4 separate regions of the Homo sapiens genome follow, and regions 1, 2 and 3 are each linked to region 4. Evidence: fine-mapped expression QTL. A gene starts in region 4. Each other region holds a variant in brackets. All regions are shown on one strand. Distances are from middle to middle. Region 1 overlaps LOC105370534 (a long non-coding RNA gene). Region 2 overlaps CHURC1-FNTB (CHURC1-FNTB readthrough). Region 3 overlaps LOC105370534 (a long non-coding RNA gene). Region 4 holds the start of RAB15 (RAB15, member RAS oncogene family).

Region 1 (2,686 bases), 82 kb before region 4:
CCTAAGATAATAACATGAATGCATTTATGGGGGCAGAGCCCTCATGACCTAATAACTCCCTCAAGATCCCACCTGTCTGGACGGATTGTTTGAGCTCAGGAATTCAAAACCAGCCTTGAGAACATGGCAAAACCCAGTCTCTACAAAAAAAAATTAAAAATTAGCTGGGCATGGTTGTACATGCCTGTAGTCCCAGCTACTCAGGAGGCTGGGGTGGGAGGATCACCTGAGCCTGGGAGGCCGAGGCTGCAGCAAGCCGAGATCACACCACTGCACTCCCACCTGGGCAACAGAGTAAGACTCTGTCTCGAAAAAAAAAAAAAAAAAAACCACCTGTCAACACTGCTGCATTGGGGATTAAGTCTCCAACACATGAACTTTGGGGAACACATTCAAACCATAGCAAACCCTAACCATTTTATGACAGGATTGATCTTATAACTTTGTTTTCTTTACTATTGTGCTTTAATTATTTGAGTTTCCTAAGGTTGCCTAATTAACCTTGATAACTATATTTATTACTCAAATAAACATCAAAAAATGCAGAACAAATTATAAGATAGGTTAACTATCAAGTGGGAATTCATACAAGATAAGTCAGCAAAAGAAGAAGAATAAGCTTTTTTTTTTCTTTTCTTTTCTTGAGAGACAGAGTCTTGTTATGTTACCCAGGCTGGTTTCAAACTCTTGAGCTCAAGGAATCCTGCCATCTCAACCTCCCAAGCAGCTAGGACTACAGGTGTGAGGCACTGCACACAGCTGAGAATAAGCTTCTTACATGCAAAATGGTGGCCTGGGTGCAGTGGCTCACACCTGTAATCCTAGCACTTCAGGAAGCCAAGGTGGTAGATCACTTGAGGTCAGGAGTTCAAGACCAGCCTGGCCAACATGGTGAAACCCTGTCTCTACATCTCTACTAAAAATACAAAATAAAATACGTGGTGGTGTGTGCCTATAATCCTGGCTGAGGTGGGAGAATCACTTGAACCCAGGATGCAGAGGTTGCAGTAAGCCGAGATCGTGCCACTGCACTCCAGCCTGGGCGAAGGAGTGAGACTCTAGCT[C/CA]AAAAAAAAAAAAAAAAGCAAAATAGTGAATAAGTTTTGAAGTTGAAAATTGGTAGAAAAAAAAAATCTTGTGGGAAATCATAAAGACAGGTCACTACTGTGGTTGTTATCAGTCAAAAAGTGTGTGGCGTAGTTGCAACACCCAGTATGGGGATCTGGATCTCTATGTGGGATGGGCGATCTGAGTGTCCAAACGGGATCTAAACTTCTCTACTTGAGGAATCTTCCTGTTGCTGACTTAAATGATTGTTAGTAGTATATTATTTGCTTTTTGCCATTTGTATCATACCTTTCATACTCAAATTCCTTGACTCAATTTGGGAATCAATGGCTATAGAGGTTAACTAAGGAGTTAGCGAGTGCATAGAGAAGCTATGAAAATAGAGAATAGAGAAGCTATGAGAATAGAGAAGCTATGCTCACAAGGAAGAGAATTTCTGAGGTTTAGACTCAGAGCAGCTCAGGAAGTCAACTGGTCTCTGCCTACTGGAAGTGCTGGAGGCATGCAAGGACCATGACCAGAAACTCTAAGTGGAGCCACAACAAGTCAAGAACAGCATGCACATAATTTACAGTTTATCTCTCACTAACTCATTATTTATTTTACTTGTTATATTCTGCTTACTGAAGGGATTTTTGAAGGTGTTCTTGTGATTTATTTACCAGAACAAAGTTCTGTATCAGTCTTCTCTTCCCAACTAAATTGTATAATGCTTGATACTTTAAAAAGTTTCTCTTCTATTGCCCAAGATCCCTAGTATGATACTAAACAATGATAGGTGGATAGGGCATACGCAAAAATAATGCTGAAGATTTTAATACGCATAAGTACACAGCATAAGTACATAGTTTCTACTAGTTGCTTTAATGAATAAAGCTATGTTACAGATTCTAGCTCATCTCCTGGATCCCACATAAGACATGGTGACCATATGTTCCAGTTTGCGCAAAACAGGTTTGCACCTGTTATCCTGGCATAATCGTTAATAGTGCTCCCTTGGCACTCTCAAAAATGTACTGGTTTGGACAATAAATTATACAATGACCTTATTGATCAGCTGCCCCCCAGGGGCTTCCCAGTAATTTCCAATGTACAAAAAGTAATTTTGCCTTAACAGTGAAGGAAAGCTTTATGGCAAAAGACAACCACAAAGTACAAAGTTAAAATTACATTAACTACTTACTATTTCCTATGTAAGATGGTTTATCTCTATGTAAATGTGAGCCAACTCTGCCCTCTGCTGTCTTATGACAGTATTATGACACTGTTTCAGCTTCATTGATTGAAGCTGATTGTGTTAGTCGTGCTGACTACCTTAGATTGTGGATTCTCATCTTTGCCTACTGCTATATTAGCTTTTAAAAATCCCCACTGTCTATGCTGCATCCTACACCAGTAAATCAGAATCTCTCAGGATGGGACCCAATCATGAATTTTTGTAAGCTCCCCAGTTGATTTCAATGTGCAACTAAGGTTAAGAACGGTTGCTTAGAACATCAGATTGAATAGTCTGTTGTGGTTCACTTAGCTATTTGATTTCACAGTCCAGATTAGACTATACTCCTAATTATGTCTGGGAATCCTTGGAGATTGGAAGAAAAAGATGAGTATATCAGAACAA
Region 2 (2,686 bases), 40 kb before region 4:
ACATAGTGAGACCCCATCTCTACAAAAAATTTAAAAATTAGCCAGGCGTGATGCCGAGTGCTTGTAATCTCAATTACTTGGGGGTCTGAGGTGGGATGATCACTTGAGCACAGGAGGTCAAGGCTGCAGTGAACCATCATTGCACCACTGCACTCCAATCTGGGCAACACAGTGATACCGTGTCTAAAAAAAAAAAGAAAAAGGACCTTGCCCTAAGGGTTTTTGCCTAAAACAAAATCTCCTCTATTACCAATCTGGGCATTTATTAAGCCTGGGAAACAAACTTCTTAAATGGATCAAATTCCCAGACAACTAGCCATCTGAAAATGAGGCAGGACATACTAGTGAATTTAACATAATTGTTTATTTTCCTAGGGTAGATAAAAATAGCTTTTTCAGTTTGGGAATTTTCTCCTTTCAAAAAATTGTTTCTGTTGTGTATTAGTGTTAAATATGCTAGAAAGGAACAGCTGTAAGAATAGGAATTTGTCCATAGGGACCCACACTCAAATTGCTTCATTACTTTAAATAGCACTAAGCTAAATATATGTGCTTTCTGAGAAATAGCCATGTATTTCCAAGATGACATTTATGTATCAATTTATATAAACAACAGGCTCTGGAATATACAGAATAAGCCTAAGACATTGCTGATACATGTTGAAGAAATTGATCCAATGTACAGAAAGAATATTCATGACAATTTGTAGAGAACATCTTAACTAGAGTAAGTTATAAAGCATCTTTTTCCCTGTTCCTCTAGGTAATTATGCACTTTATCTTGTTCTAGGAGTATACCATGCTGTGTCTGTTATGCGGCAAAGCCGAAGATACTATCAGTATTCTCCCTGATGACCCCCGACAAATGACTCTCTTATTCTAAGGATCCTTCTACAGATCTGTTATAACTATATTGTGTTGGTTTACAATACAGCAAGCCTGATGGTTTGTCTTATTTCATTCATACTGAAAATTCTTTGCATATTTTTTTTCTGCTTAGACTTACTTATTCTTTGAGGAAAAAAGGTAATGTAGGAGCTCATTGTTCTCTAGAGCTGAGCTCTTCTGCTAAAGTTCAAAGTTCACATCAGTGTAGCCAGAGTGAAGCATCTTTGTTAGCAGTTATGTGGTCAGAAAACAACTAGAATGGGAGCACACCTGGTGCCCAGATTTTGGTTTCCAATAAAAGGAACCAGGACTCCTTAGAAAATGAACTGATTCTAGA[A/G]CTGGGATATGAACTGTACAAGATGAGCCTAGAGTATCTTGTGCCACAGAAAAATGAAGTACTGAAATTAAAAAAAAAAAATCATAGTGATTGGGAGTATGTCAGCATGATCGAACTGAAGGATCTCTGAAAGGCCACAGCTGGAGCAATTTGAGTAACAAAATAAAGTAGTATTGGGTTATAACCCAAACTATATAATAAATATTTACAAGCCCAAACTAATATAAATGATTGAATGGGAACAAATCTCTTGTGCAGAAGAATTTCAAATAATTTATGTAGATACTCCCCACTTAGTGGGCTCTGCATAGTGACTTCCTTGCAGAGTATAATATGGAAAGGGGGGAAAAGAGTAACTTTACAGTGGAGAAATCTGACAGACACCAGCTCAGCCAGGTGATTGAGGTTAACATCATCCATGATAAGCCCTTTTGATAGCATGTATCCTTGATAGCATCACATCATACAGAATGTGATAAGAATGGCACTTTACCTCTGTGGTCCTCCTCCCCAGAACTCAGAACCCAAGTCTGATCAGGAGAAAAACATCACACAAATTCCAATTGAGAAGCATTCTTTAAAATACCTAACCAGTACTTCTCAAAACTATCAAGGCCATAAAAAACAAGGAAAATCTGAGACATGGTCACAGCCAAGAGGAGCCTGAGAAGACATGACTGCTAGATGTAATGTGGTATCCTACATGGAATTATATACCACGAAAAGAAAAAAAGGTCATTTGGTAGAAACTAGGGAAATCTGAATACAGTGTGGACTTCAGTTAATATAAATGAGAAAATGGTTTCATTGGCTTTAAAGGGATTTTAGAATATCTTACTTTGCATAGTTTCATGAGCACTGGCCAGGAGGTTATAAACTGGCATTTAGGCCTCTCTGCCATTTAGTAGCAGTATAGTCATTAAGCAAAGCATTACTCTGGACTTTATTGTCCTGTTTCTATCAAATTGGACTAACAAAAATTGATATAATACATTCATCACAGTATTGTTAGGAGATTTAAATGAATTAGTGAATGTAAGATACTTTAGAAAGCATGTAAAGTACTAGAAACAATGAGGTGGCTTCAATTAGTGCTCATTCTGAGACCTAAATTTAAAGGGTCAGGCATTAGAAACAAAAGTGTTTCTTCATATCTAGGAGATTTGGAAATTCTGAACTAAGGTCTTATAAGAACAAGAAATGAGCAAAGTGTTCATTGTAGATACTAGGGAAAAGCTTTGTTGAATAACAGTAATGATGATAATATCTGAGCTTTATTAAGTACTTACTACATGCTAAGAGCTTTTTAAGCACTTATTTAATCCTCATTAACAAATTCATAAGGTAGGTGCTATTGATAGTTTAGCCATAACCAGATATGGCTTGTTATTTGTAAGTTATCATGAAAAGGTTTATATTCACTATTCTTTATTTCAGTGTAGCACTTTTAGAGCCAAAAAA
Region 3 (2,686 bases), 91 kb before region 4:
CGAGCCGCGGACCCGCCCAGAGATATAAATAACATTATCTGAGGAGGGACATTCCTGCCGGGGGACATCGCTGCTGCCGGGACCAGATAGTCCCGCGGCGGGGGCGGGGAGGCGGGGCCGCAGCCTCCCGCAGCGCCAAGCCCAGCCCCCGCCTTCCCCACCCACTCACGCACCTGCCAATCAGCCTCCGCGCCTGGGGGCACCTGCCGGGCCTCAGCCCGGCTCCTGGAACCCGCCTCTGCCTCCCCGCCCGCCGCTGAGCCTGGGGCGCCTCCATCGTCGTTCATTGCCCCTAACCCCGCGCCACCCCGAGCCCCCTGAGGCGGGAAGGGGGTTGGACTCTAGCTCGGGCCTAATTCGTGCGCCCGGAGAGGCAAGCCTGGTGGCGAAAATGAGCCCTCCAGCCTTTCCCGCCCTGCATCCCCACTGCACACAGTTCAGTTTTTAAAATATATGAAAAGACATTTAGGCCATAGGGTGGGCGCGGCGGGTACCCGGGAGGTGAACCCCCGCCGTGGCGGGTTTGGGAGGGACAGATTGTTCCCGGGGGCTGGTGCATTAGAAAGCGCGCTCCCGGGCGGGCTTCTCTCGGCTGGCGGTGGGAGGGCAGGGGGCGGGCACTGGGCCCGAGGGCCCCACCCCCAGCCCGAGCTCAGTGTCGCTGTTTCTGCCCGAAAACCTAGTGTAATCAGGACGAACCAGGCAAAGCTGGCGGCGCGCAGCCTGCAGTCCCAAGGAGCTCGCACATTGTAGGGACTGTAATCAACAGGCAGGCTGCCACACCTGCCCACTGGCACCTCCTGGCCGGCCCGGGTCTCCGGGCGAGTGGGGGTGCCTCACTACAAGCCTGGATGAGGCGCGGCGCAGCAGGCCAGAGGAAATACTAGAACCGATGGTGCCAAAAAGGCATCTCCGAGTTGCCCCCGGAGAGAAACTCAATAGAACACCGGCAGCTTGCAAGGCAGTACATTTTCTTGACTTTCTAACGATCAAGGTCATTGTTCAGTAAGGTTTACGTGTACGCCTTGAGGTAGCTTTCATCTCTTTTCTCCACCTGCGGTGCCTGGGATGATTTCTCACCAGCTATCAACGCAGGTAATCTCAGGTATTATGG[A/C]AATGGCCGTGGAGATTAAAAGCGCATAGATGCAGAAGAAGTTTTAACTTTTACTGATGCTGCCTGGTGTTCTTAACAAGGGAACAGTCTTACTCCTGAGTTATTTGCTTGGGATTATAATTGTGCTGTTTTCCAGAATTCACCCAGGAAAGGGGTGTTTGCCAGATGTTCGAGTTTAGTTTATATATTGAACATATGCAAAGATACTTCACTTCCTGCTGCAGTCCCACTTCTTGAGGGTGGGTATTTAGACACTGAGATGTGCTGAGTGGGACAAACGCCCCAGGTATTACAGAGCCACAGAATTCTTCACTCCACCCTCCTCTTGGCTGGATCCTTATTACAGCTCAATTTTCCAAGAGACACTAGTAATATGGGAAAGAGGATACAAAAACATTCATGGTCATCGATAGATTCGCAGTGATCCCCTCCTCCCCTTTGTTGACAACATTTAAGAATGCATTTTTCTATTACTGAGTTAAAAAGAGAAAGTTCTGTTTTGTGAAAAAAAATGTTTAAAAGTCAAATTCTGGCAAGGAAAGCTCAAGAAAAACAGGCCAACTTCAAAAGCTGAGACTATTATATATCTCAAGAAGAAATCCTTCATCTATTTTTGTTAGAAAAAAATGGAGGGAAATTATGTATTTATGGTTTTTTAAAAGCTTGTATGAATAAACTTATTAGATAAATTCATGGTTCTCTAGAATGGTGGTTCTGCAGCTACGTAATTATATACTATGCAAGCCAGATAATTCCTTAGCTATAGGTCTGTGGCACTGAACTGAATAGTTGCATACATATTTTTCTTTGTAGCCTTAAAATTTATAATTTTCAACCATAAGAAAAAATTAATATGATAAAACTCCAAATCAGCAGACAGATTACCCCAACATTTTACAAACCAGCTCAGCTGCTTTAGTTATCTCCACTTTAGCTGAAAGCTAAATAATTCAATACAACCTCATTTGCTACAGAGCATGTTATCCTGACAGCATCCCCAAATGCTTTACAGCTAATAGAGTTACAGTGAAATGATAAATCAGAACTGAGGAAGAGAGGAAATTTAGGCTTGCAGTGAGGAAAGGGCATTGTCAAATAATAGGGAAAGGGGAACAGATCTCTGTGGCCAGGAATGAGAAATTGGGAGAATAAAAGAAGGGAGAAAGGTTGGGCATGGTGACTCACACCTGTAATCCCAGTACTTTGGGAGGCCGAGGCAGGCGGATCACTTGAGGTCAGGAGTTCAAGACAAGCCTGGCCAACATGGCAAAACCCTATCTCTACTAAAAACACAAAAATTAGCTGGGTGTGGTGGTGCGCACCTGTAATCCCAGCTACTTGGGAAGCTGAGGCAGGAGAATCACTTGAACCTGGGAGGCATAGGCTGCAGTGAGCCAAGATCACGCCACTGCACTCCCACCTGGGTGACAAAGCAAGACTCTGTTTCAAAAAAAAAAAAAAAAAAAGAAGGGAGAAGGAAACACATACATATGTTCGTTATCAAGGTCATCATTGTGGGCAATAGGGATCACGTCTGGAGGGACCTCCTCAGAAGAGTATAGAATACCTCTT
Region 4 (2,686 bases):
CCCTTGGTCTGGGCAGGTATTCCTGACACTCCTCCATCCTCTTTAGCCTCCCTCAGAACAGATGTCTCCTCTTCCCAGGCGCAGGGGCTCCTCACCCTATCTGTGTCCTCCCCCAGGTGTCCCACCTTGCGGCTTACCTTCCCAACTCTGCCCTGGAAACTCGATCCCTGTGGCCCCTCCGTACGTCCTCTCTTCCCCCCCTCGCCCCCCGCCGGCTCCACCTTGGGTCACCACAGAACCAAGGGCGCCTCAGTGACTCCGGTCTCCACCCTGACCCCCTTTTCCGTAGCAGAAGCTTTACTTCCCCTCCCCCTGGGGGTGTGGGGATGTTATTCCAGCGGCTACGATTCTTGCTACCCCAGCTCGGGGTACCCAGGCCTACACCAGCTCCCCTCACCCCCGGTTTCTCGGTTTGATGGGACGGAAGGCTTCCCGGCAAGAGGCGGGAGACCCCACCCCTGGTCCGGACGGCAGGCAGCAGGGACACCCTCACCTGCCAAAACCTATGCTCACCCCGAGATTTATCCCGGACTCCGGCCTCCGGCGCCACCGCCTCCAGCCGGAGGGGCTGGCAATTCCTCCCCAGCTGGGGACGGGGGCGGCGGGGAAAGGGGCCGCGGGCGGGGAGGGAGGGGCGCCCCGGGCCACCGCCCCTTACCGATGGTGGAGATGTGCGAGGAGTGGAACTCGTTGTCGGTGAAGCGGCACAGCAGGCAGGTCTTGCCCACCCCGGAGTCCCCGATCAGCAGCAGCCGGAACAGCACATCGTACTGCTTCGCCATGACTGGGGCCAGCGGGGCCGGGAACTGCGGGCGGGCAGCGGGCTCAGCCCTGCTCCGCCGCTGCCATCGCGGCCCGCGCCCGCCCGGGGACGCTGCGGGCGGCGAGGAGGACGCCGGGCCCGGCCCCCGCGGCTGCCTCGCCCGCCCGCCTGCCCACTCGCTCGCTGGGTGCCGGGAAGCGCGGCTGCGGCGGGAGCCCGGCGCGGCGCCCGCTCGGCTCGGCTCGGCTCGGCTGGGCTGGCGCGAGGCGGTGGGAGGAGAAACCGGCGGCGGCCCCTGCCCGCCCCTTCCCCTGCGCCGCCGCCGCCGCCCCGGAGAGAGGGGGCGGGGAGCGCGCGCAGGAGAGCGGGACCCCATCGAGCAGGCGACGCTGGGGCGGGGCGCCAGCCCCCCCTCCCAACCCCTTCCTGCCCGGGGCGGGGGAACGTTTTCGTTTTTCCGCGGACGCTCCGAATGGGGGAGTTGAGGTGAGCCCCCACCCAGCCCACTTCTACCGTGCTCCGCTTTCCGGGCTCACCACTTCTCCCCATATCCCACCCCAAGTCTGGCGCCGGTAATTCCGCCCGCCGTGGCACCCTGCATCTGCAGGATCTGGCCGGGCTCCCCAGTGGCTGGTACCTCAGCTGGGCTCACCCGAGGTAGGAAGGCCTTGAGCAGGATCTGGATTCGAACACCCGTCTCCATGAGTCCCCGAGAGTGTGGGTGGAATTCCCCCTCCCTGCCATCTGGCTGCCCCTTACCTGTGTGACTGTGTCACGGCCCTCCCCCGTCCCCATTTTTTCTTTAAATGGGGAAAATGCCTATTCACGGCCTCCACCAGGGTGAAAAGATAGATGGCCATAAGAACATCTCCAAGTGCAAAATCCTTTAGAGGTGTGCGGGCAAGTCTCCGTTTTCCCTCTAAGGTGCTTAGGATAGGTGCCCAGGTGACCAATGTATTGTTTCAGACCCCTAAATTTCTCTGTGGTATAGCCAGTGGCACCAAAGAATGAATGGCCCTTGTTCAAGATCCAGTTTCCTACCACTGAATGTGTTAGCACCGGAGAGAGGCAAATGAATGCTCTCCGGAGTTGAGAAAATTGCCTATCCCTACCAACGAGTATTGAGGGAGAGCAAAGTCTAGCCTATTAGGTCTTTAAAAAGCAATGAAAGGCTAGGCGCGTTGGCTCATGCCTGTAATCCCAGTACTTTGGGAGGCTGAGGCGGGCAGATCACTTTGAGGTCAGGAGCTGGAGACCAGCCTGGCCAATGTAGTGAAACCCAGTCTCTACTAAAAATAAAAAAAAATTAGCTGGGCACGGTGGCTCGCCTGTAATCCCAGGCTTGAGAGGCTGAGGTGGGAGGATTGCTTGAACCCATTAGGGGAAGGCTGCAGTGAGCCGAGATCATGACACTGCACTCCAGCCTGCGCAACAGAGGGAGACCTTGTCTCAAAAAAAAAAAAAAAAAAGCAATGAAAAGTATATATGTACATACCTGTTTTCAGGCTGAATATTGGATGGAGAATGTATTTTTCAATAGTAGGTCAAGGAAAGTGGTAAGCCCATTTACTTCATTTGAAAAGGTATATTTCAGGTTAAGTGTCTGAATTATAATAAGAGGGGAAAAGTTCAAGACCAGCCTGGCCAACATGGTGAAACCCCATCTCTACTAAAAATATAAAAAAATTAGCTGGGCGTGGTGGCCGGTGCCTGTAATCCCAGCTACTCGGGAGGCTGAGGCAGGAGAATTGCTTGAACCTGAGAGGCGAAGGTTGCGGTGAGCCGAGATTGCGCCATTGCACTCCAGCCTGGGCAACAAGAGCAAAACTCTGTCTCAAAAAAAAAAAAAAAAAAAAGCCGGGGGGCGAAATCCCGAGCCTGCTAGCTACTCTGATTACACAGAAAGCTAAAGGAACTGATGTA

Evidence for each region. PIP is the estimated chance that this variant, and not a neighbour inherited with it, causes the effect.
Region 1: its variant is fine-mapped to the expression of RAB15 in naive CD8 T cells (Schmiedel 2018, PIP 0.95).
Region 2: its variant is fine-mapped to the expression of RAB15 in whole blood (TOPMed, PIP 0.98).
Region 3: its variant is fine-mapped to the expression of RAB15 in whole blood (INTERVAL, PIP above 0.99).

The regions. Positions count from the first base shown.
Region 1 is chr14:64,889,684-64,892,369 of GRCh38, forward strand. All of the region lies in intron 1 of LOC105370534 (a long non-coding RNA gene), which reads right to left. Among named protein-coding and RNA genes, the nearest start is that of SPTB, 11 kb to the left of the region's middle. The variant C/CA (reference allele first, on the strand shown) is at 1,065.
Region 2 is chr14:64,931,348-64,934,033 of GRCh38, forward strand. All of the region lies in intron 3 of CHURC1-FNTB (CHURC1-FNTB readthrough), which reads left to right. CHURC1 (churchill domain containing 1) reads left to right here. Exons shown (of 4, transcript NM_001386928.1): 4 at 791-2,686. The coding sequence ends at 883. Among named protein-coding and RNA genes, the nearest start is that of GPX2, 10 kb to the right of the region's middle. The variant A/G (reference allele first, on the strand shown) is at 1,226.
Region 3 is chr14:64,879,910-64,882,595 of GRCh38, forward strand. It overlaps LOC105370534 (a long non-coding RNA gene), which reads right to left. Exons shown (of 3, transcript XR_943942.3): 3 at 972-1,479. Among named protein-coding and RNA genes, the nearest start is that of SPTB, 1.3 kb to the left of the region's middle. RefSeq lists silencers at 109-278, 329-468, 539-618. The variant A/C (reference allele first, on the strand shown) is at 1,115.
Region 4 is chr14:64,971,295-64,973,980 of GRCh38, forward strand. RAB15 (RAB15, member RAS oncogene family) reads right to left here and starts at 1,042. Exons shown (of 7, transcript NM_001308154.2): 1 at 659-1,042. The coding sequence starts at 782. All of the region lies in intron 3 of CHURC1-FNTB (CHURC1-FNTB readthrough), which reads left to right. RefSeq lists a silencer at 835-1,204.